Linked DNA regions of Homo sapiens. The protein of the gene in region 5 purifies or fractionates together with the protein of the main gene of each other region. This does not show direct contact. Each region holds a gene or a part of one and is shown on either strand. Other genes may lie near its edges.

What was found.
Region 1: the proteins of LAMP3 (region 5) and PDS5A purify together in Homo sapiens (affinity purification with mass spectrometry; 2 studies listed by BioGRID and IntAct, with this or other methods). This does not show direct contact.
Region 2: the proteins of LAMP3 (region 5) and HSPA12A purify together in Homo sapiens (affinity purification with mass spectrometry; 2 studies listed by BioGRID and IntAct, with this or other methods). This does not show direct contact.
Region 3: the proteins of LAMP3 (region 5) and ARFGEF2 purify together in Homo sapiens (affinity purification with mass spectrometry; 2 studies listed by BioGRID and IntAct, with this or other methods). This does not show direct contact.
Region 4: the proteins of LAMP3 (region 5) and DOP1B purify together in Homo sapiens (affinity purification with mass spectrometry; 2 studies listed by BioGRID and IntAct, with this or other methods). This does not show direct contact.
Region 6: the proteins of LAMP3 (region 5) and SEL1L3 purify together in Homo sapiens (affinity purification with mass spectrometry; 2 studies listed by BioGRID and IntAct, with this or other methods). This does not show direct contact.
Region 7: the proteins of LAMP3 (region 5) and CAMK1D purify together in Homo sapiens (affinity purification with mass spectrometry; 2 studies listed by BioGRID and IntAct, with this or other methods). This does not show direct contact.

Annotation. Positions count from the first base shown.
Region 1 is NC_000004.12:39,825,138-39,827,911, reverse strand, and holds part of PDS5A (sister chromatid cohesion protein PDS5 homolog A), read left to right. Parts: intron 1-2,423; coding exon 2,424-2,427; 3' UTR 2,428-2,774. UniProt on the Homo sapiens protein: Probable regulator of sister chromatid cohesion in mitosis which may stabilize cohesin complex association with chromatin. May couple sister chromatid cohesion during mitosis to DNA replication.
Region 2 is NC_000010.11:116,701,067-116,704,566, forward strand, and holds part of HSPA12A (heat shock 70 kDa protein 12A), read right to left. Parts: intron 64-3,500; coding exon 1-63. UniProt on the Homo sapiens protein: Adapter protein for SORL1, but not SORT1. Delays SORL1 internalization and affects SORL1 subcellular localization.
Region 3 is NC_000020.11:48,924,711-48,928,210, forward strand, and holds part of ARFGEF2 (brefeldin A-inhibited guanine nucleotide-exchange protein 2), read left to right. Parts: intron 1-3,500. UniProt on the Homo sapiens protein: Promotes guanine-nucleotide exchange on ARF1 and ARF3 and to a lower extent on ARF5 and ARF6. Promotes the activation of ARF1/ARF5/ARF6 through replacement of GDP with GTP. Involved in the regulation of Golgi vesicular transport.
Region 4 is NC_000021.9:36,229,824-36,233,323, reverse strand, and holds part of DOP1B (protein DOP1B), read right to left. Parts: intron 2,875-3,500; coding exon 2,190-2,874; intron 521-2,189; coding exon 249-520; intron 1-248.
Region 5 is NC_000003.12:183,131,735-183,135,234, forward strand, and holds part of LAMP3 (lysosome-associated membrane glycoprotein 3 precursor), read right to left. Parts: intron 1,223-3,500; coding exon of another isoform or gene 1,083-1,222; exon of another isoform or gene 1-1,082. UniProt on the Homo sapiens protein: Lysosomal membrane glycoprotein which plays a role in the unfolded protein response (UPR) that contributes to protein degradation and cell survival during proteasomal dysfunction.
Region 6 is NC_000004.12:25,817,989-25,821,488, reverse strand, and holds part of SEL1L3 (protein sel-1 homolog 3), read left to right. Parts: intron 1-1,548; coding exon 1,549-1,681; intron 1,682-3,210; coding exon 3,211-3,351; intron 3,352-3,500.
Region 7 is NC_000010.11:12,348,081-12,352,346, reverse strand, and holds the start of CAMK1D (calcium/calmodulin-dependent protein kinase type 1D), read right to left. Parts: upstream 2,801-4,266; 5' UTR 2,529-2,800; coding exon 2,437-2,528; intron 1-2,436. UniProt on the Homo sapiens protein: Calcium/calmodulin-dependent protein kinase that operates in the calcium-triggered CaMKK-CaMK1 signaling cascade and, upon calcium influx, activates CREB-dependent gene transcription, regulates calcium-mediated granulocyte function and respiratory burst and promotes basal dendritic growth of hippocampal neurons.

The DNA.
Region 1 (2,774 bases), on a different chromosome or scaffold from region 5:
GATTGTTGAGTATGTTTTGCTTACACTTAAGGCCAAATTCTTCCTTGAAGATGAGCTTGTCAATAAACATCAATGGAAAAATAACCCCAAATTTGTGACTTCTGGGGAATTTGAATTTAAAGAGAATATCTGTAGGATAACAGACTGTGGGTTTCTAGTCGTTGGATTAACATGTTTTGTTTAGCATGCTTAGTGTGGGAGTGTTCAAGGATCTTAGAATTTGTTTTTCTTAAAGCAAAGAATTGACTGAGTTTTTGTGCTCATTTGTATAATGAGAAGGTTTCCTCCCATCATGTGGGTTCGTATCTCAAAATTAACCCCTAAGTATATATCCTCAAATGTGTATCCTCATGTGTTAAACAGCTATATATTAGTTCAATATGAATTTTTTTTAGTAACAAGTGAATTTTTCTCAAAATAACATGAAATTTTTCAGAAGCCAAGTGCTTGCAGTGATGGCAGTTCATCTTGGTACATAGAATCAAGTCCAGGAGCTCTTCCAGTGACCTGGGTCTTTCAGAAGTCTGTGAGAGCAGCCCAAGAAATACAGAGGACTCAGGGCTAGGAAAGGGAAGCTTCCTGAAGGTGTAGCAGGCAGCTTGTAAATAATTCTTTGGCCGGGTCCAGTGGTTCATGCCTGTAATCTCAGCACTTTGGAGGCCAAAGCAGGCTGATCACTAGGTCAGGAGTTCAAGACCAGCCTGGCCAACATAGTGAAACCCCATCTCTACTAAAAATACAAAAATTAGCTGCGCGTGGGGGCGCAACCTATAGTCCCAGCTACTCAAGAGGCCGAGGCAGGAGAATCGCTTGAACCTGGGAGGTGGAGGTTGTGGTGAGCCGAGATCATGCCAAGCACTCCAGCCTGGGCAACAGAGCAAGACTCTGCCTCAAAAAAAAAAAAATTCTTTAATAGCATATTGTTAAAATTGCTTCAAATAGTATAACAAATTAATAGTCTCTGTATGAATTGTAATAATCACTTAGCTCTTTTAGCATTGTTACCTTTATAAAATATGTATGTAGTAAAGGAGTTTGGGAATATATCTTTCTTTCTCTTTTAGGTGTAAAATTGTGGAAAAGGAGACAGTCTTACTACTGATCAGGCTGATTAAAAATGTAGAATGGGCCGGGCGTGGTGGTTCATGCCTGTAATCCCAGCACTTTGGGAGGCCGAGGCAGGCAGACCACGAGGTCTAGAGTTCAAGACCATCCTGACCAACATGGTGAAACACCGTCTCTACTAAAAATACAAAAAATGAGCTGGGCATGGTGGCACGCACCTGTAGTCCCAGCTACTCAGGAGGCTGAGACAGGAGTATCGCTTGAACCCGGGAGGTGGAGCTTGCAGTGAGCCCAGATCACACCACTGCACTCCAGCCTGGCAACAGAGCGAGACTCCATCTCAAATAAATAAATAAATAAATAAATAAATAAAAATGTGGAATGAATTAGGCAAGTTGGGCTGCTAATGCCTTGCCACTGAATTGAACAGCCACAGACAAACCAGAATGCACTTCTCAGGGCAAAAGAACAAATATTGATGAAGTCAATCCCAACATGCTCATTCCTTTTCCCTAATCTCATCTATTAGATGAGTTCCTCCTTCTCCCAAAGAGGAGTAGGTGAGAGGAGGTGAGAAAGAGGCCATGTCCCACTCTCCTGTGCTTCCAGGGATCAGAATTTCCCTCCCTATTAGGGAAATGCGTTTAAAAAAAAAAAAAAAACACGCCAGTTTGGTTGGGATGTTTTTAGTATGCTAAAACGTTTATGTTTACCCAGCTCATGAGTCAGAAGTTATTTTGCTGCTTATAAATTCATTTTGCCATAGTATGATAAATAGCTTTTAATGTTGTAAGCAAATAGGGCATTGGATAGCAGCACTAAGTCATTGAAAACAAAAACTTCTTTATTGGTGTTTGGTTTTTATATAGTTTAGGGAAAGGCTCTTTAAACCAAGTTTCAGGTGAAAAAATGAAAAAACTTTTTAAGGATTTTAGATAACATGCCAAGCACAGTGACTCATGCCTGTAATCCCAGTAGTGAATCTGAGAAGCGCAGGCTTCCCAGATCGCTTGAGCTCAGGAGTTGAAGACCAGCCTGGGCAACATAATGAGATCCCGTCTGTACAAATAATTTAAAAATTAGCCAGCCATGGTGGTGTGCGCCTATAGTTCTAGCTATTTGGGAGGCTCAGGCTGGACGCTGAGCCTGGAGGACCACTTGAACCCAGGAGTTGGGGCTGAGTGAGCCATGATCGTGCCACTGTACTTCAGCCTGAGTGACAGAGTGAGATCCTGATGCTTAAGTTTAAAAAAAAAAAAAAAGATTTTAGATAACAACTATGGAAATGAAATCATTTTCGTTTGGTTTATATCTTCTCCACATCTTTTCTAACTTTGCGTTCTATTCTTAACCCTAAGGTAAAAATGCATTTGCAAAGGGAGAAAATGAAGGCCAAACAGAAGCAGGCTCCAGCTTCTGCAAAAACTTGGATTCACAAATGTCCCTGAACAGAAAATGAAGCTCACTTCAGAACACACACTCTCTGCCTTGAAAACTAAAGAGACTATTACTTCCTTTTCACATGACCACAAGTCCTCTGATGGAAATGTACAGCAGAAACTCTTGAGAGAGAGGCTAAAAGCAACTCTGTTCTCCCCCTTCCCCTAGACTTTTCTTACGAAAAGTCAATAATTAAGCAAATTGCTTAACACTTGGTTCCAGTTCCTGCCTATCTGGAGTTTAAATGCGTAATACACCATTAATTTCCA
Region 2 (3,500 bases), on a different chromosome or scaffold from region 5:
GTCAGCAAGATGGTGGTTGGAGTCTTCTGATTGGACACACCAGGGTCACCTCCCTCCCATCGCCTGCCACCAAGGGAAGCAGAAGTTATGGGGCCTTCTTTCAAAATCCCAATTCAGGCAGCACAGATTTGAACACCTACTGTATGCATGAGTGTCAGTAATGTGGGTGCCCAGAGGCACTCTGCTTCAGCTGGATGAGCAGCTACTAGAGACACAACTTCAGTTAAAAAGGAGATGAACTGGGCAAGTGCAAAGTTCTTGGTCAATAACAAGCTCTGCCTTAGTCTTTCATTCCATGTTTACTGAGCATCTACTCTAAGCATCTACATGTTTGCCAGGTGCTGGCATGAAACTTTTATGTCTGTGTCTTCAAATAATTCACAATCTGCTAGGCAATGTATTTTTTATTTGCAAGCACTCAATAGCAGATATACTGCTAGCTTGAATCCTGTCTGAAACAAGGTAGGTATAGACAAATGCATAATTACCTGCCTTATGAGATGCAAATGAGATGCCCAAGGTGCCAGCTGGTAGGGCAGAGGAAAGAATGCAGGATTCGGGGGAGAACTGAAGAAGAGACAGACAACTGGATCTCAAAGGAGGGAAGGATACTCCAGGCTGCTCAGAGGTGGGCCAGCCGGGGCATTCGTGGAGAATGTGAAGTGACTGCGTTGGTTGGAGAGAGTATGTGAGTGGGAAGAGTGACTGTGAAAATGGGAAGGGTGAGAAACACGATTGGGAAAGCAGCTGGAATCAGGCTGAGGAGAACCCTGGGGACTTAGACATTTACTCTGTGAATAATGGGAAGCCACTAAAGGTCTTAGAGCAGGGGTATGACAGAATCAGAGCTGCTGTTCATAAGGGCAAACTGGGCTAAATGGAGGGAAAGGGAAGCCAGGAGCCTCAGACCTATCCTGGAGCAGAGGTGAAAGAACCATAGAAACAGATCTCAGCACTCTGGGGGGCCAAGGTGGGAGGATTGCAGTGAGCTATGATCGCATCACTGCACTCCAGCCTGGGCAACACAGCAAGACCCTATCTCTAAAAAGAAATGACAGAGAGAGAGAGAGAGAGAGAGAGGCTGCAGTGAGAGCAAGGGAAGGGGGAAGGGGAAGACAGGAAACTCAATGTATTCGCTCACCTTTGGGGCCACTGCAGAGAGGCCAGGGCCACCAAGAGGCCAAGCTGTTCCCTGCCCAACCAGGTCCTGGCTCCTGGCCTGCCGCTGGCCATGTGACCCCATGCACAGCCCGTGCGCCCTCAGGTGGGGACGCAGTGCAGGAGGGAAAATGAGCCACTTTCCTCACCCACTGGAGAGGTGGCCACGCTCCCAGCTGATCCCGGACCTGCTCCCGACCCCATGACATTAAGCATCAGTAGGACCATCTCAGTCCAGATGGAGCTCCGGCCTCCACTGATATTTGCTGCTCAAATGGGTCTGGAATCATCCCTGGTCAATTTCCTTGTCAAGCTCCATCAGGATGCTGCTCCTACCCCAGCAGCCAAAGTCCCCGAGGTGACCGCACTGAGACACAGGGATGGCCCCGATGCCAGGCAGCTGCTCCACACACTGCCCTTCACAAATGGAATTGTCATTAACAGTGACATTATCAGTAGAGAATGACCCCATGAGCTTTTTCCCTTCAAATTTTTATTCCTTCATTCCCACTTAGTACAAAAAAAAGTTAACTTTCTCACTTATAACTTGTCATATTAGCATCATTATGCTAATATGTTCTGATTGAAATAAAATTCAGGTAGAACCAACCAACCTCCCTCCAAAATGTCGACCATTACTAAGGTATCTCCTCTAGAGGCCCTGAACTATGGTGGTGCTTCATAAGTACCCCTCCCCAAGCAAGTTCAAAGTTATTTCCACTCCTTCTTTTCTGTTTTCACTGCATGACTATTCTGTGGAAATAACATTTCTTAGAACAACTACATAGAAGCTGATAAACATTGATTCTAGCCTTTAATGGCATATTCTTTTCCACTGGGATTTTTCATCTTGGGGGTCAGTGGTGGCAGCACAGACCCTCACAGCATCTGTCTGGCTAAATGGAAAGAGATTCCTGGTGGCAACTGAACACCAAGGGCGATGCTGTCAACAGAGTTGGCTATAGAACCGGCTTTTCATCATTTCCTGATGACATGACACCCAGGAGTGTCTGTACCCTCTTAGGACAAGAGCTTCAGGCTGAGCCACATCTGGTTTTCAAGAGGAAAGGTGAGACTTAAACCAAGATTGGGGTGGGAGTCACTTTTATTATGACTTGTGCTTTACACAACCCTTTATAAAAATTCCTAAAATACAAACATTAGCAGGGTGTGGTGGTATGCACCTGTAGTCTCAGCCACTTGGGAGGCTAAGGCAGGAGGATCACTTCAGCCCAGGAGTTTGAGGCTGCAGAGAGCCATGATCACACCACTGCATTCCAGCCTGGGCAAAGGAACAAGAGCCTGTCTCTTAAAAAAAAAAAAATAACAACAACAACAAAACTAAAAAATATTAATCTAGGAGCAATACTAAATTCCACAATTACTCAGTTGAAGAAACTGCAAAGCCAATTACAATGTATCTTCAGAGTCATCCCTTGGAATTGAAAATTGGGATGATAAATTCTGGGCTTCCAAAGATTCGAGGAGTCATACCCTGCAAGAAGATCATGGATCAAGACTGGGATCCCATGGATGGGTGGCACCCGGGGCCTGCAGGGTGCTGGGTGTGCGGGGAAGGGAAGGGGGCATCCCAGCACAGAGTGCATCCCAGGAGGCCCAGGGCAACTTTGCCTATGGGGCCACTTGGCTGAGATTCCCCTCATGCTGCCTTCTCTCTGGCAGGTGCTTTTTGCCTCTGGCTACCAACACCCCAGCACTTCTCTTCACTTGAAAGGGCCAGCACCTGGAGAGGATGTGGAGAAATAGGAACACTTTTACACTGTTGGTGGGACTGTAAACTCGTTCAACCATTGTGGAAGTCAGTGTGGCGATTCCTCAGGGATCTAGAACTAGAAATGCCATTTGACCCAGCCATCCCATTACTGGGTATACCCAAAGGATTATAAATCATGCTGCTGTAAAGACACATGCACACGTATGTTTATAGCGGCACTATTCACAATAGCAAAGACTTGGAACCAATGTAAATGTCCAACAACGGTAGACTAGATTAAGAAAATGTGGCACATATACACCATGGAATACTATGCAGCCATAAAAAATGATGAGTTCATGTCCTTTGTAGGGACATGGATGAAACTGGAAACCATCATTCTCAGCAAACTATCGCAAGGACAAAAAACCAAACACCGCATGTTCTCACTCATAGGTGGGAATTGAACAATGAGAACACATGGACACAGGAAGGGGAACATCACACACCAGGGACTGTTGTGGGGTGGGGGGAGTGGGGAGGGATAGCATTAGGAGATATACCTAATGCTAAATGACGAGTTAATGGGTGCAGCACACCAACATGGCACATGTATACATATGTAACA
Region 3 (3,500 bases), on a different chromosome or scaffold from region 5:
ATATTAGGGGAGAGGATCAGGGCTGCAGGGACTGTATAGTGTAGATGTTAGCTAGGAGTGTATTCTTTGGGACCCTAGACTTCTGTGTTCAAACCTCCTGCCTTCCACTTGCTACGTTTGTGATCTTGGACAAGTTACTTCCTTATAGGATTATTGTAAAGATTAAGTTAATTGACATGTGCAAAAAACTTGGCATGTAGTAGGTGCTCAGTAAATGCTTGCTATTACTTTTTTATTATTATTATTTTAAGCTGTGACAAACCACAGCAGCTGTAATTACTCTGGTTTGATGTTCTTAACCTTAGTTCCTCGTTCAGGAATGACTTACTGCTCTATTTGGTTTGTAGATGCAGTAAATAAGAATGTAATTACGTGATTGAAAGGCTGTGTTGGAGTATTAACTTCCTAAACTCAATGAAGACAGGGGTTGTCCTTTGTAAAAATTGTGATAATCATGATGGAGCAGATTTGGAGTAATCTCAATGATTCGTCCGCACTATACACCAAAAGCATAAATAGGGACTGCCCAAGTAGGGGATAGTGCCCTTCCAACCTTTATCTGGAGAAATCAAGACAGCCTGTGAGAGTATTCATCGCCCCAAGGATACTGTTGCTCTTTACCTTGTTATGAAACTTTGATATATATTAATAATCTTCAACCTTTCAGCCCTCTGTTGGAGAATATAATTACATTCTTAAACCTCCCTTTTATAATTGTCTTATTTAAGACTCATCTTCTCCCATCATGTATCTTTAAGTTATGTTTCTGCTCTTAAACTATATGAAGTTTGGAGGCTTAATAGGATAATCTATTTAAAATTCGATATGGAAAAATTTATCTATGGCTGGGCACTGTGGTTCATGCCTGTAATTCCAGCGCTTTAGGAGGCCAAGGTGGGCAGATTGCATGAGCCCAGGAGTTTGAGACCAGCCTGTGCAACATGGCAAAACCCCATCTCTAAAAAAATATATAAAAATTAGCTGGGTGTGGTAGTGCATGCCTGTAGTCCCGGCTACTTGGGAGGCTGAGGTGGGAGGATGACTTGAACCTAGGAAATGGAGGTTGCAGTGAGTTGAGATCATGCCATTGCACTCCAGCCGAGACAGCAGGGTGAGACCCTCACACAAAAGTGCTAAGTAATGGCTAGGTGCTCTATAATTACTAGTTGTCATTATTCTCAGCCATTATCAAGAAAATTTAAAAAGAATAGTAAACATACGTATTTTCATATGAAATTGAATGACTTTTAAAGATCACATGTTGTATTATATCTCCTATGTACTAAGCATTTCTGAGTTCCAGGCACAGTAAAGTGGGCTTTTCATGCAATTTAGTTCTCACTATTATCATCATTCCCACTGAGGCCCAGAGAAGTTAAGTTGGCCAGGGTAACTCAGTAAGTGATGGAACCAGGGTATAAACACAGGCAATCTGGCTCCATAGTCCAAGATCTTAACTATTACTACCATGTTTTCTTGCTTCTCCATATGAAAGTTGTTATGTTTGAAATACTCAGTAGAGTTTTTAAAACAATCAGTATACCGCAGTGGAGTTTCAGGAGACTGTATTTTCTATAGCTGAATTTTGAGATATGTTTGAAAGCCTTGAGTCAAAAAGATCACAGCTCTTTTCTTCAGGTTTTTACTACATATATACTAGGTTTACTTTAATTAGGGGCTAATGGAAAGAAGGAAATGAGAGTAAAGAGCTGGTTACACATAAGTTTCATTTGAGTTATTCAGTTTTTCTTTTTTTTTTTTGAGACAGGATCTTGCTCTGTGGCCCAGGCTGGAGTGCAGTGGTGGGGTGCGATCTCAGGTCACTGCAACCTCTCCATCCCTGGCTCAGGTGATCCTCCCATTTCAGCCTCCCAAGTAGCTAGGACTACAGGGGCGTACCACCCACCTGGCTAATTTTTCTGTTTTTAGTAGAGACGGGGTTTTTCTGTTGTCTGGGCTGGAGTTAATCAGTTTTTCTAATTGATGATATCTCTTCATCAGCAGTAAACTCCCTCTTATTAATTCTGGAGTTGTGACCTGTTATTAATTCTGGATTGTGATTCATTTCTTTGGGTACAGCAGGCAATGGGAGACCAAGGCTAAGGAAGAGAGCAACTTGCCCATCCACATCCACACAGCTGGGTGGGGAAACGTAGCTGCAGCACATGATGTAGCTTCACATAGATCATAACATCCATTCTTAGATTTGCTCCTCTGTTTAATATACGAGATTTAGGATGTGGATGGGTCATTGGTGACCTTAGCTTGAGCTTTTTTGATGCTGTGATGGAGGTGAAAGCCAGACTGGCATGGGTTGAGGCGTGGGAGGTGAGGAAACAGATGGTGAGCATAGTCAGCTCTCCCAAAGTTTGGTTGTGTTGTAAAGAGGAAGAAGGAGTGGCTCCTGGGAGTTGTTTGTTTATTTAAAGGTAGAAAAGATTTTAACTTTAAATATTGTTAAGGGATCCAGTTAAGGAAGTATATTCCTAAATCTTAGTTGTATATGAATGTGTGTAAGACATACAAATGGGCATTTATCATATGGACATCTGTGTGTCCATATGATACATAAATTGCTTTTTCTTCCATATGATCCTTTTATTCTAATTTTGATGTGTTCAGAAAAACCATTCTCATCATGAGGATTACTGTGAAACTTGAAAAATATAAAAAACATCTCTAAATTGATGTAACGTGGCGGGGCATGGTGGCTCACGCCTGTAATCTCAGTACTTTGGGAGGTCGAGGCGGGCGGCTCAGTTGAGGCCAGGGGTTCAAGACTAGCCTGGCCAAAATGGCGAAACCCCATCTGTACTAAAATACAAAAATTAGCTGGGCGTGGTGGCGCACACCCGTAATCCCAGCTACTTGGGAGGCTGAGGCAGGAGAATTGCTTGAACCCGGGAGGTGGAGGTTGCAGTGAGCCAAGATGGCGCCACTGCACTCCAGCCTTGGCAACAGAGCGAGACTCTGTCTCAAAAAAAAAAAAATTAAAAAATAAATAAATAAATTGACATAACAAGACTTTAAATTGAAATGCAGAATAAAGCCTTTAATTTTAGCAAATTCTAGTGTTTTGATGAGACATTTCGTTTATAAGTGCTATGTATCATAAAAATTTTGAGAAATAACAGGACTCAGGACCCTGGAAGATTACTTTTTGTTGAAAACCACTGTGGATTCTTCAGGAGGAGGTTATCTGTCTGGAAGCAGCATCAAAAAACTGGATTGTTCTTGATTATTGAAAAGCATTTATATGTAGGATTGGCAGAGAGTTGATTGAGACTTTGAAAGTTTGATTTGCTTATTGATAGTCCAGTGATCCCTCTTTGGGCCGCAGTTTCCCAAGGTGATAAAGATAGTAATACCTTTGTCACAGGATTATTGCAAAGGTTAAATGGACTAGTGCAGTAAGTAACTGGCACAGTACCTGGCACCTAACAGATGACCTGCTGAAATTCAGAGGCATTGGTGTTGCAATCTTTTTTTTTTTTTTTTTT
Region 4 (3,500 bases), on a different chromosome or scaffold from region 5:
GCAGGGGTTCCACTCAGTCCTGGCAGGCCCAGAATACTGGGGCCCCAGTTGCTCTCACTGTAGCTTTCCTGGAGGGTGAAAGTTACATGCTGGGAGAGGAAGACCAAAGGCTACTGCCTCTGCCCAGTGCCCTATAGAATATCACTCTCAGAGAAGTGGGCCACTGCCCCCATCCCCAGCAATACGGTTCTGAGTTTTGCTCAGGGGGAGAAGGAGGCCATAAGAAGAGTGTTCCCAGTGGGAAATACCTGATAGAAATCTGTTTTCTCTGCAATGACTTTCAATATCCCTGGAGCAATGGGAGGAACCGTCACCATCTGCAGCTTGCCAAAAAAAGGGTTGTGTCCAGAGCTCTTATAGCGTTTCATCTTGTCTTCAATGACAAGCGCCAGGGACTGGGAATGGTTTATCACTTCCAGCAGAGTGGAAATGGCCACGTTCTGGAGGTAGCAGTCAGTCACACAGCAGCAAATAGTCATGAGGGACTTCAGCCAAGATGGAAAACTGGAATCACCGGCTCCTGAAAGGAAGCCAGCCGGAGAGGCAGAAACAAGCAGAACCACGTGAGAATGGGTCCCCAGTCTGCAGATTCTACAGCACCCTAGATCTGGGAAGTTACCTGAGAAATCCACCTGGACAGCAGTGCGCTAACCTCCCGCTGGTGAGACTTATTTGGAAATAAGGTCCTTACAGAGGTAATCAAATTAAGATGAGGTTGTTAGGGTGGGCCCTAATCCAATATGACTGGTGTCCTTGTAAGAGGGACATGTCAAGGGAAGACAGGACATACAGAGGACACCCTGTGAAGACAAAGGCAGAGACGGGACTGATGCAGCTGCAAGGTGAGGAGCCCTCCAAGGGTTGCCGGCCAGCACCAGAAGCTGAAGAGGCCAAAAAGTATTCCATCCAGGGTCTCAGAGGAGGAGTATGGCTCTGCTGACACCTTGATCTTGGACTTCTGGCTTCCAGAACTATGAGACAAATTTCTCAGTTTATGGTACTTTGTTAGAGGAGCCCTAGCAAACCAATATATAAAATATTGGCCAGGCACGGTGGCTCATGCCTGTAATCCCAGCACTTTGGGAGGCCAAGGCGGGCAGATCATATGAGGCCAGGAGTTTGAGACCAGCCTGGCCAACATGGTGAAACCCCATCTCTACTAAAAATATGAAAATTAGGGGGCCAGGTGCAGTGGCTCACGCCTGTAACCCCAGCACTTTGGGAGGCCTAGGCGGGTGGATCGCGAGGTCAAAAGATTGAGACCATCCTGGCCAACATGGTGAAACCCTGTCTCTACTAAAAATACAAAAATTAGCTGGGTGTGGTGGCGTGTGCCTGTAACCCCAGATACTTGGGAGGCTGAGGTAGGAGAATCACTTGAACCCGGGAGGCGGAGGCTGTAGTGAGCCAAGATCGCGCCACTGCACTCCAGCCTGGCGACAGAGCAAGACGCTGTCTCAAAAAAAAAAAAAAAAAAAATTAGCTGGGCGTAGTGGCACGTGCCTGTAGTCCCAGCTACTGGGGAAGCTGAGGCAGAAGAATCACTTGAACCCAGGAGGCGGAGGTTGCAGTGAGCTGAGTTGGTGTCACCACACTCCAGCCTGGGCAACAGAGCCAGACCCTGTCTCAAAAAAAAAAAAAAAACAAAAAAACCCAACACAAAAAAAACTTTATCAACAGGCATCATGAAATAGTCTATTTACTATCACTGAATGCCACTCATGTTCTAGGTCTTCTGATGGGCTGTGCTGGACACCCAGGGTTTAAAAACATAGGCCCCACCCTTACCACTTTGCCATGTGGTGAGACACAAGTCAAAAATGTACTAATTACAAATGAGGAAGGGAACAAATGAGGCCAATAGCACCTTCTTGGCTTACACAATTTGAGCTAGTCTTTAAATATAGGTTGAGAATCTCTAATCTGAAAATTCCAAATCCAAAACCTGAAACCTTATTAGCACTGACATGATGCTCGAAGGAAACAGTCACTGGAGCTCTTGGATTTTGGATTTCTGGATTAGGAATGCTGAATCGGTAAGTGTAAGGCAAATATTCCAAAAATCTGAAAAAAGTCCGAAATCCAAAATACATTTGGTCCCTAGCATTGTGGATAGGGGATATTCCACCCACGTCAATCGCCTCATCGTATGATTCCCAAAGAGGGACTTCGGCAGGGCTGCCTCTCACCTGGCAGCTGGAAGAGCGTTGCACAGAGCTGCTCGGTCTCTTCCTCGGACAGGTAGACAGGGAAAGTGGCACAATCCAGCAGCAGGTGGCAGGCGGCGGCAAAGGCCTCCCTGCGTTCCTCCCTGGAACCCCCCAGGTCAATGACCACCTTCTCAACATCCCATTCTCCCCCGTTTTTCCTGGCAGGGCTGCTGGGCGAAGACGATGGTGACTCTGAACTTTTTGTCTTGAATGGAGACCCTCGTGCTGTGAACAAGTCTGACAGCATCTGCTTGAACTGAGGCACAGTGATGGGCTTGGGCTCCCAAGAGTTCTTCCTGCTGGAATCATTGGCTGCCAGGCTCTGCGTCCCATCCCTGTCCCTCTTCCCTGCAGGCTCCTCGGACTTGCTTTCTTCTCCTGACGCTGTCAGCTGTACTCCAAAAATGTTCTTGCTGGCAAAGTTGGCGATTAGCTCTTGGATGCAAAGAAACGTCCTCTGCATGCTCCCGCCCTTCTTCCAAACGTCGTCCCTTTCCAGAGAAACTCGAGGAACCCTCAAGTGCTCAGAGAGCTCCGGTGACGAGGCACTGAGCCCGATCCCACTGTCCTCAGACTTCAGAGGGGGAAACGAAGCATCTTCGTCACCGGGAATCACTGCCTTTGTTTCCAAAATTATTTTGCCGTTTTCACCTTTTACTGGACTCTGTAAAAAATAAAAAGATGTGAATTGTGCATCTCTTAACACCAAGCTATTTAAGTATCAGTTGAAATCATGAATGTATTTCAATTCTGTTTTTCAAAATCATCACTCTCCAGACTAGAGAATCCCTGTGTTAAGTGTATAATGAAATTTAGGAGGCACCCAAAGCAGGAGAAGGAGAGCGGTGGGTAGCAAAGAGGAGGCTGGTACACCCACATGCTCTCTGGGGAGGCTGGCTTTTGGGCCTATTTTTCTTGTGTTTTTGTCTAAATATATAACCCCTTTAGAGTTCAAAAAAGTTGTTTAAGAATTGTTTCTGCCAGGCGTGGTGGCTCAAGCCTGTAATCCCAGCACTTAGGGAGGCTGAGGCGGGCGGATCACCTGCCACAATTCTCTGGACAACAGAGCGAGAACTGTTTCCGACAAATTAACAAATATGAATGAGGAAACTGAGCTGAGGGTAAAATAAAGGTATGAAGAAATAAAATAAGGCCAGGTGTGGTGGCTCATGCCTGTAATCCCAGCACTTTGGGAGGATGAGGTGGGTGGATCTCCTGAGGTCAGGAGCTCAAGACCAGCATGGCCAACATGGTGAAACCCCATCTCTACTAAAAATACAAAAAATTAGC
Region 5 (3,500 bases):
TAATGAATGGCACCTCTGGAAAATTTGGAAAAACAAGAAAACTTCCAGTCAGTAGAATCAATTAAGAACATACCTCTCCTTTTTCTCTGAATGAAAAACCCCCATCAATGTAATAGGAAACCATGAATAACATCCTAAGCCATATTTTAATAGAATTTTTCCCTCAGATATCAACCGTCCCCCATCAGGAATGTACTGCTTTTGGTGAATGTTTGCGTAAAAGGGAAGTGAGTGATCCTCCAGGCAGGTCTACCTCTTCCTGCTTGCCATTCCATATTGTCTCCCTGCTCTGTCTCCCTCCTGTCCTGCAATGGTCCAAATGGACACATTTACAAGAATAAAATAACATCAAAGAAAAGCCGACAAACCCGGAAAAAAGTAGCTAAGAAGGCAGACAACACATGAAATTGAAGCAACTGAAGGGCTAACATTTATTGAGCCCCTCCTTTTTTGCCATGATCTTTGATATGTGCTTTAAATTAAAAAAGTGAAATAGGCAGTTTCCTAATTTTTTAAACTGATAATACATTACAATAGAGTAGGATATGTTTTTTTAAAATAATAGCATATTAAGATCATCTATAATTTAAGTAAACAAAATTTGGGTAAAATCCAGGAGTTTAAAATCATTTTGTAATCAACTTTGAAATGCATTGGTTTTTTTAAAGTAATGTTTTTAAAAACTGAAAATCAGGACTCTTGAAAATGTATAAGAAAAATCAGTCAATTTGTAAACGTCTTCCCCACAATTCTCCCTCCGGGTTTTCGCTTTCTCCCTTCTCACAAGCACCCCACTCATGTCTCTGCCTATTGCCCCTAATTCCGGAAGCCAGCACTGGTATATTCAGGTATGGCAGAGGGCATCAAGCACACCTGGCATGGCCTCCCCAAAGCAACAGGAGGAAGTAGGGGAGGTGCTGTTTCCCAGCACTGCGGTAGCCCTTTGGTGGAAAGTTAGGTTTCCTAATCAGCTCAGGAGGGTGCAACAGGCAACGAGACAGGTCAATCCTTTCACTTCAGGCTGAATATGATGCTGGAATTCCCAAGACCTTAACTTTGCACATTTTGAAGAAAGTGGGGCTTTACATGCGTTCATATCCTCTACTGGGCCTCTTTCTGGCCACCAGACATGCGGTTAGCAAAATGACAAGCAGTCCTGTGATACTCAGGCCCATGGCCACAGGGATTTCTCTCCTGTTTCTGTCACTGAAGCATTCATCCGCTGTAATTGAAGTCAGAGTAACAAGTGTTACAGACTGGCCACAAATGCTGGGAAGTGGCACTGCCACATCTGCCTCAGCTTTGGAGAAAAGAAGACAGAGGGGAAGATGGAGCTGTTGGGGCTCAGACAACAGTGGGTGAAAACGAGAGGGAAAGGGTCAATACAGTGGATCTGACACGTGTAGCACTGGTAATTAGTTAGGGAGCTTATTAAATTGCAGATGCCCAGACACATGCCCAAGAAATGATAATTCAGTGGGTCTGAGCTGAGGCCAGGGGAATTCTGATGCTGCTTCCAGGCAGATCCAACTTTGAGAAAATGCTAGTTTGGCCTAGAGGGTTGTGATCAGAGTTATGTCTTGACTCTCAAACTAGAGTAATTCCCGGAGCCATATTCTCCAACTCTAGTAATAGTTTGAGACAGAGTCTCACTGTGTCACCCAGGCCAGAATGCAGTGACACAATCTCGGCTCACTGCAACCTCCGCCTCCTGATTTCAAGTGATTTTTATCCCTCAGCCTCCCGAGTAGCTGGGATTACAGGCATGTACCACCATGCCGGGCTAGTTTTTTGTATGTTTAGTAGAGATGGGGTTTTGCTATGTTGGCCAGGCTGGTCTCATAGTCCTGGCCTCAAGTGATCCACCTGCCTTGGCCTCCCAAAGTGCTGGGATTACAGGAGTCAGCCAACACGCCCAGTCCTAACTCTGTGTTTCTTACAGGGGCTGCTCAGATAGCTTGGGGCTCCTAAATCAGCATAATAAACAGCAAAAGAAAAGGACAGCAAAAACCCTAAAACTCAATAAACAAAACACAATGTTTGCAGGCTCCAGGATTTTAGGGAGGAGGAGATTTTAGGAGTCAGGAGTCTACTGTTTGGGATGACCATTATCTTTTACAAGGCTCAGCTTTGACACTTGCTGGATTCCTCTCCAGTTCTTCGATCCCCTGTTTAAAAATCGCCTATCACTCAAGACTTCTTTAGTCCACCCTCTCATCACCAATGCTGTCAGTCACAACTTCCTCTGGGCTCCCATAACCCTTTGCACATGTGTCTTTTAAACACCATATAGTATGGTAACTTGCTCCTCTTTTCCCCCTTCTCTTACTCTCTAGTAGAAAATCCTATTTACAGAATGACATACCTCTTCACATTTGAGCATCTTTAGTGAAATTTGAAGTGCAAAGACTAAGAAGATGGCGTTGAGTTGATACGGTGACAGTGGGAGAACAAGGGGAACATTTTGGAAGTGGAATTGTTAGGGCTTTGTGACTATTTGTATGAGAGGGTGCTGGAGGGAGAGGAGTTAAGGAGAACTCTGAAGTCTGTTGTTTGGAAAACTATCCAGTTAATGATGGTTTTAAGAAAAAAAAAAATGTAAAGACAAGCGAGCTTTTCTATGCATCCCTGTGAACACTGGCGTGCACTGCTGAAACGTTTTATTTCCTACCTCTGCCACTAAGAAGTTTCCCAGACCTGATCACTTCCTGCTTCATAGAGGTTCTGAAGGGGAAGAAGAGCAAGTGTGTACCTTTTTTTAAGATCACACGATTACAGAAGTTTTTCAAACCTTCATAATGATTGTAAAAGAAAGAAATAGTTTTCCAACACTAGCATTTTTGAGAGTGGATGACAAATGGGGCCAACCTCTACTGGCAAATTCTCATATGACTGTGGGACTCCGACAAAGCCTACAGAAACCAGGGGACCCAAGGCAAGCAATGGCCAGTCCTTCCTCTGCCAAATGCTTCCCACTGAGTACATGAGGAGAAGTTTTCTGCTACACACATCTGCAATTTCATGATGGAACCCAAAGCAAAATCAGATTCATATTGTAGACATTTAAAATACGGCTAAACTTCTAGCTAAATCTATTTTTGATAACTGGGAAGTACTCATCACATTTTTTAGTTATTATGAGAGGGATGTTTTAGAAATTGAAGTACATGACCCTCCTGGTCATATGTAGAAATCCTCGTAACACTGTTTTCCTGGAAGGGAGAAGAGGGCTTTTTCTGGCATATGACTCTCCTGGTCATAGGCAGAAATCCTTATAACAATGTGTTCCTGGAAGGGAGAAGAGGGCTTTTCTGGAAAGTCACCCTGGTCTGCTCTTGGCCCTTGCCCAGGGACCTGTTTTCCTCCAGGGCAGTCATCAGGCAAGCTCTGCCTGTGATGGTCAGAACTCAAGGCAGAAGTTAGAGGGAAACTAAAACTGACTATGAGGAAACACTGTTGGGTGTGACAGCTTATAACTGGAGACGAGGGGCTCCAACAGC
Region 6 (3,500 bases), on a different chromosome or scaffold from region 5:
GCCTTCCACATCCATAACCCGCCCCCGAATGGAACTGTCCAACGCTTCCAGCCAACACAGCTGGACTGGTCGGGGGAGAGGGCTATTTCCCTATGAGGGAGCCTTCAGGGCACTTGTTTTCTGGGCTGCTTTAAGGAGATCAAGAACCCCACCTGATACCTGAAAGAGAAACATTCTGTCATTCCCTTCACCCTGTGGGGTTTATTCTGAGAAAAACAGGGGTCACTAGGCAAAGTCATAATCAGGAAAAATGGGGAGTCCTGCTGCCCATGGGTGATATCTTACAGCCTCTGTGAGACACTTTTGTGAAAAGGGAAAAAAATGAAATAGTCATTTGTGCAACAAATGCTTATTGAGAACCTACTGTATGCCAGGCTTTGAACTAGGTGTTGAGACAAGCAAGATGGATAGGTTTAAAATTGTTTTGAAGGTTGTCCACAATAAGAAATCTGCTTAATATCAGCCAAGCGTGGTGGCTCACACCTGTAATCCCAGCGCTTTGGGAGGCCGAGGCAGGCGGATCACTTGAAGTCAGGAGTTTGAGACCAGCCAACAAGGTGAAACCCCGTGTCTACTAAAAATACAAAAATTAGCTGGACGTGCTCACTTGAACCCAGGAGGCAGAGGTTGCAGTGAGCCAAGATTGTGCGACTGCACTGCAGCCTGGGTGACAAGAGCAGGACTGTCTCAAATAAAAAAAATTAAAAAAAGAAAGAAAGAAATGTGTTTAATATCATGAACAGTACATATACATATGCATACATATATTCACACATAAAATGGAAACAAAATTATTCTAAGAATACATACCCTTGCTATATTCAGTGCACGCTGATATTTTGTGTTCTACTTTATAGAAACAAAAAACACCACCAAAACTCTGGAGGTTCCCACCCACTGAAATAACTGTGTGACCCTCTAATGGGTCCCAGCCTCTATTTTGAAGCACACTGAGCTAAGTCCCTTGTTCCTGAGGCGCTCCCTTTCGGGATCTTAAACAGGGAATTCATGAAAGAATACAGTACATGCTTTAATTCAGATGTGTTTGGGAGTGCTGAGGCAGGAACGGATACATCGGCCCGTAAGTGAGATGGGGTGAGCCACTAGGGGGGCCTGTCCTGAAGCCATGGCCTTGCAGCCAGCTCTTGGAGGTTGCAGAAGAGGGGAGGAGGGCTCTCTTTGATGCAGCAGGCACGTCGTGGGTACCCTTGCATCTTTTCGTGGGAATTGAAGGGGGAGGTGAGTGTGATTTTCTAGGGACAGAGTGCAGCCAGAGAAAAGAAGAGGGAAGAGTCCCAGTCTCTGGGAAATTCTGACATTTAAGAAGCTGGACACAAAGAGAAGCTGAAGGGAAGCCATCAGAGCTGGCATGTCCTTGAATTAGTACCAATGACCTTGCTTTGCAAATCCAGAGTGGATGATATGTGTACAAACGAGCCACCTGGAGATGTCAATGGGAGAACAAAGTCAACCCAAACACATCCTCCTAGAGGTGGATGGATATTTGATGACAATTGTTGTTCATTTGACTTTCTTGCCTTCTTGTAGATTTTTAATCCCCTCCTTGAGAAGCAACTTGCTGAACAAATCAAGTTATATTATGAAAGGTGTGCTGAGGTTCAAGAAATAGTATCTGTGTATGCATCTGCAGCAAAGCACGGGGGCGAGAGACAAGAAGCATGTAAGTGTTGAGCTTCAGGGGAGCTGTTTTAAGCTCTGTGCATTTACATAAACACATGTTTGGCTTCTCCATAACAGGATTAAAATTAAACATATATGACTTGGCTCAGATACCAGATGGGACAAGTGTGACCTTGAGCCCTCCACTGGTGGATACAGGTGAAATTGTACATTCCACCTGGATTCTACCAAGACCAATGACAGCCAAGAAGAACCAAAACATCTTATAGCTCCAACCATAAAAATCTAGTTTACAAGTACAAATGAAAGCGAGTGTTTTGTGCCTTCGCATGGCGTTATTCCCAACCATAAGGCCAGCCTAAGAAAATAAAAATGAACTGGAAAATAAATTAATCATTAGAAATGTTTCCCCATCAGTGCACTTTTGTTTTGGGCCATTGATATCTGAATATTAGCTTTCAGAAATGTTGAATGGTGACTTTGTTGTTTGGAGCTTGGTTTTATTTTTTAAATCCTTGAAATTGACTCATTCTCGAAGACATCGGTAATTTTTAACAGAAGGAATGAATTTCAAATAGACTGCTTTCATGCATGCTCATATTTGCACAGACATCCTTTTACTCACACAGGGTGTTTATCAGTTACAAAACTTGGTCCTGTCTGGTTCGCCAGTGTTCCAGCTTGGATCTAGCACTTACACATTTCTCTGTGCTGTGGATCTTGCTGTTTGATATGGTGGCACTAGAGTTACTCACATATGTTCCTTCTGGAAGAGAAATTCCTGTGGGACCTTTGCCATCAGCAAAAGCGAATTGAGTATTTCAGTCCTGCCCATATGTCTCTATCTCCAGAGCGGAACTTCTCATTCCAGGTCGTGGAGGGAGGGATGCATCTCAAACATGCCCCAGTCCAATAGGGTTCACATGAAATGGTCCCAGGTAGTGATTACAGATGGTGACAGGTGAGTGTGGAAAGATAGTGCTTCTGCAATTCAATTTAAGAATAGGCTATACTGGTCCCCAGCTGCTGCTCTCACTGCTGAATCATCCGGAAAATATGATGCTGTCAACAGGAGGGGGAAGATATATAGGAATAGTAATAACCCAAAGAGGAAAGAAACTGACTTTGGTAACTTATGTACTCTCAGGAGACATACCCTGAGATAGAAGGCCAGGCATGCACACCCATCTGTTTGGTGGCATTAGGAAGATTTTCCTATCATCTTGAACTGCTTTGCCTCCCTGAGGGTCTTTGTGCTTTGCTCCTCAACTCACATGCCAAAAAATGGCCTAGATATTGGCCTCCTGGGGACCGGTCAGAGGCCAGCTGCTCATTCTGTAGAATTATTCAACAGCCATCAGCAACTTTGGCACATTTCTCATGGACTTGGCTCTGAATTTGTGACCTGGAGGCAAAAGCATCATAGCCAATTTCAAATCCCAAAAGGACCAAAACCAACATCCAGTAATGGCAAGTCTTTCTAGTTCCTGTTAGGAAGAAGGGCTTTAGGGAGGTGAGTCTTATCTTCTGCTAAAGGGTGTGATATCTTCTGCTCCCTCTTCTGTGTAGGCCACCTCCACAACTCCTACCTGGACCTCCAGCGCAGGTATGGGAGACCCTCGATGTGCAGAGCCTTCCCCTGGGAGAAGGAGCTGAAAGACAAACACCCCAGCTTGTTCCAGGCATTGCTGGAGATGGATCTGCTGACCGGTAATTGAGTCTTTGCCTCGGCTTTAGGCGCTGGTTAGAAAGGCTCCTTGTTTTTCTCTGTTTCACTCACCCTCTTTGGTGATTTATGCCTTAAAGTTATTTTTAACCCTAGTGTTTTAGTTTAATTTCAGATTTAAATTCTGCCTTTG
Region 7 (4,266 bases), on a different chromosome or scaffold from region 5:
TGAGCCACCACGCCCAGCCCATTATGTTTTCTTTACATTAATATTAAAGTTCGCGTTCCAAATACTAAAGTTAAGTCAAATTATTGACTAAGCATTGGCCATTACAGGATCTACAAAGTGTGTCAACCCTGTATGGACAATCAAAAGTTGCTCTGCCTATCTGTGAATACCAGCTCCGCCACTTAATAGTTAGCTAAGGTTTGGTAGCTCACATAATTATCTCTGCTGCCTTAGTTTTCTCATCTGCAAATTGGGTGTAATGGTAAATACCTACCTCATAAGGTTACTCTGAGATTTAAATGAGTTAATACACATAAGGCACGTAGAATAATACCTGATCCTGGGTATACATTTCAGAATACCACCTATGATTACCATGATTATTATGTGGAGTAAAAACATCTTGATCATCACACTGTTTCTATCATTCTTCTAGGTCCAATGCCAGTGCTACAGTGGGAAGCTCCTTTGCAAAGAATTCCATCCCAGGCAGAAGGCAATGCTTTAGGACCCTAAGAGAGACCCATTCCCAAAGCTCACAGGGAACATGGCTGGAGTCCAAGAGGCTGTTCTGCCAGAGAAGCGCTCTGGCACCAGAGGGCAAATCCCCATTTTTCCCCAAGGTGGAAACCACCCACAGTCATCTCCAAACACCATGCTCCAGCAGGAGCCACAGCTTGGAGCCTCAGCAGCCCCGCCACTGCAGAGGTGCAGCTGCACGAGTCAGTCAGGGGACAGGGCATCAGTCACCCGGAGGCTACAGGCAGGAAGCCAGTGTGGGGGGCTCGGGTGGGAACAAGCCACGGACAGGAAAGCATTCACACAGGGTGGGTCCCCATGCTCTCCCATCTCCTCATTGGCGGCCACAGTGCGGGTCCTGGATGACAAGCAAAGGCCATGCTTTCTTGTCTCTCAGTAACTTGAGCATCTCAGAATCACAACCCCAAACCCGAATAAACCTCAGTGGCAATTTTCAAAAGTTTTGACCCAAACTAACCCCTTACCTGGCTGCACTAAGAGGCAACCCCAAACCCCTATTTATTAAAAAGCTACATCTTTTTCTGTTTTCATTCCAACAAAGATAGCAAATAGGTGCCCTCCCTGAAAGGCAACAACCACAGCAGGGAGACCCCACTCTAGTCCTCAGCGTGCGCCTTCCCGGGAATCAGAAGCAGGACTGGGAAAGCCACCCTCACAACTTCTCTCCGGGGGACCCCCTGCAGATCTGCGTGGGGGTGAGGGGAAATGACTGAACAGCAGCAGACGCCGAGCCTGGAGGTGAAGACAAGCTGGGTAATGTGGTGCTGGAAAAAAGAAACCAAGCACAAAAACAAGCACACGGAAAAAAAGGAGGAAGGAAAGAAAGGGCACCCAACAACGCACTGATTTATCCCATGAAATAGCTCCCCTTTCTCTTCCCAGCCTAATCAACACCTCCATGAACCCCTGCAAAATGGGCATTTCTGACTGCACACCTGTGCGTGAATCCACACTGACAGATACTGATGCAGAGCAAATACTGATTGTGTGAGGGAAGGAAATAACTTGAACTTCAGACTCATTCGGCAGGTCCTGATTCTCTTTCACTATCAGCCTCCCCACCTATTCTGAGCCGCTCCGAAACAAAACAAACAAGACCCAACTCCTGGGCAGAAAGGGAACAGCAGCTGAGCTGAGCAGCACATGCTTGGAGCGTTCCTGCCATCGACTTCGGATTATTTCTGCTTTCTTGAGACACAGCCATCAGCATGGGACTCGATGCAGCCCGGAGAGAGCACCGCCCGCGCAGCGACGCGCACAGACCCTCCCTTGGAGACGCGCTCCCCGGCGCGTGCGGCCGAGCCCGCGTGAAATGCACAGACCCTCCGGTGAGGCTCTGCCCACGTGTGACCCTGAGCACTGCGAAGCCCTTCCCTTCCATCCTCGCGTGGCCACCCAAAGTCTTGCCTACACCTCGTACGTGCAGATGCCAATTCCATAGAAATACATGATGTAAGGACAGAAATGGGAACGACTGGAGGCTGATCTTCTCGTGACCACGTCTCGCCAACGCGGTGCGCCCATGCACACGGCGAGTAAACGCACACAGCCGGTAAACAGCCATCCCCACCATGCTCAGCCCACAGTCACGCGTGGGGAGAAGGCAGCGGAGAGGGCGGCGGTGGCAGGAGAAGTGGGAAGTCGCGCGCCCGCGTGGGCTGCTCCCTGACAGCCCGGCGCTGCCCCCTCCCCCTCCCGGGAACGGCGCCCACCCGGGGGTCGCAGGCCCACGCGTCGGGCGCGCTCGGGGGGGCTCCGCAGCGCCGAGAACGGGACAATGAGGACGCGGTGACAGGCTGGGTTTCTGCCGCGGTAGTGGCGGCGGCGGCAGCTGGAGCTGCCCGTGCAGCCCCTGCCGCGGCCACCTCCACCCTCGCCTCCCCGGTCCCCACTTACGTTCCGAGGGTCTCTTTGAACTCGAAGATCTTCTTGATGTCTTCAGCTTGCTTTTTCCAGGAGGAGCTGCTCTCGCCGTTCTCCCGGGCCATGGCCGACGAGCGCGGCGCGGAGGAGCGGCCGGGGGCGCGCTGGGGAGGGGGCGCCGGGGGCGCGGCGCGGGCGCAGAGGCGGCGGGGATGCCGGGCGGCTCGGGCTGCGGCGCAGCTTCCTCCTCTGCAGTTTCCTCTTTCGCTCTCGCCGCCGCCGCCGCGGCCGCGGTCCCTCCCTGGCTCTTATTTCTGCTGTTCTCGGGCACAGACTTCCTGCCGCCGCCGCGCGCCGGCTCCTTTGCCGCCGCCTGCCAGCCTCACTTTCTGCTACTTTCTTGCCTCCCTCCCGCTCCCTCCCTGCCGCCCGCCGCGCTCCCCCCCACCTCGCGCCTCCTCCCCCTCCTCCCCCTCCTCCCCCTCCCGCGGGCTCCCCGCCCTCTCCGTGCGCCCCGGCCGCTCCCCGCCTCCAGCGCGCCGCCTTCGGGGATGTCCCGCTCCCCTCCCAAGAGCGCCGGGCCACGGCCGTCGTGCCCCCTGGAGCCCCGGCGAGGGCGGGTACGGGCCCCCGGCAGGTGCGGGGCGCACGCGGGAGAGCCCCAGCCCCTCCGGGAGCTGGAAACGGAGCCCAGTCTGGGGGCGCCGGGGCTTTCCCGTCTCCGGCGGGAGGGGGCGCCTCTGCGTGGCTCGGAAGCGCCGGGCGGGCGGGGGTGCGCGGCGGCCGGATGCGGGGCGCCGAGGGCGGGGCGCCTTCCCGCGCTGTGGCCTGTGGCCCGGGGGACCCGAGGGGCAAGGCGTGGGGTGGGGGGGGTGGGGGCCGGTTGTTATGGCGACGGGCGGCGGCGGCGGCTGGGATGGAGGCGGAGGCGGGCGGGAGCTCATTCGCATTGCACCAAATCGGTTTCACGTCAGTTTCGGGACAGACCCGCGAGGAGCAAGCCGGGGAGCCTCTGGGCGGGTACGCGCAGGACGCGCCAGCAGCTGCCTCGTGGTCCCTTTGCGAGCAAAACTCCCGGGGGTGTTTGGCAGCCGCGCGGGCGCCCTGGTGCTGGGCTGGAGCGGCCGGCGGGCCTGGCCGGCCTGGTTGCCCTGGCTCACGCTTGGCCCCTTCTGGCATCTCCCTGTCTCCTCCCAGAGACTCAGTGGAAAGAAGTGATCGTCTGCCCCGCAGTCCCCTCGAAGGAGGAGCCCACCCGCGGCTGGCTTAGTAGGGTGTCCGGGTTGCGGGGCAGGCACCTGCTTTCCTATGGACTGCCAAAACTAACCCAGAGAATTCCCTCCGGACTCCCATCTCCCAGCTGTACTTTGGCCTGCCCGCCCCACTCCTGGTGTCCACCTGTCAGAGGGCAGCCCACGTGCTCCAGTTCCCTGGTCCCCAACCTGCAGGGGCGACCTCTTGATCGGAAAATTTTAGATTTCTTGGTATCAACACTTCGCCTCCCTCAGGGCCTCTCCTCGTAGTTGGGTAAACAGCTCTGTCTCTTGACTGGGGACACCTGTCCCATTTTCCCAGGACTGTTCCAATTTCACTGTAAAAGGAAAAAAAAAATCTGCTCCCTGAATAGGAAACTTCATCCAGCACCTTGTGCCTAGTTCTGACTCTGGCTGAAGTGGAGGCAGCCCAGCTGCTCTCCCTCAGCCCCTACTCTGACCCTAAAGAGGTCAGACGACACCCTGGCATCCCCATTCCTGGGACCTCCATGCTAGTTTCCATCTTTCAAAGACGGTTAGCTTAAGGTTTTCCAAACTGAGAAGAGCAAAGAGGGGATTTACTTGCCGGTTAGATGTAGAATAAATCCAC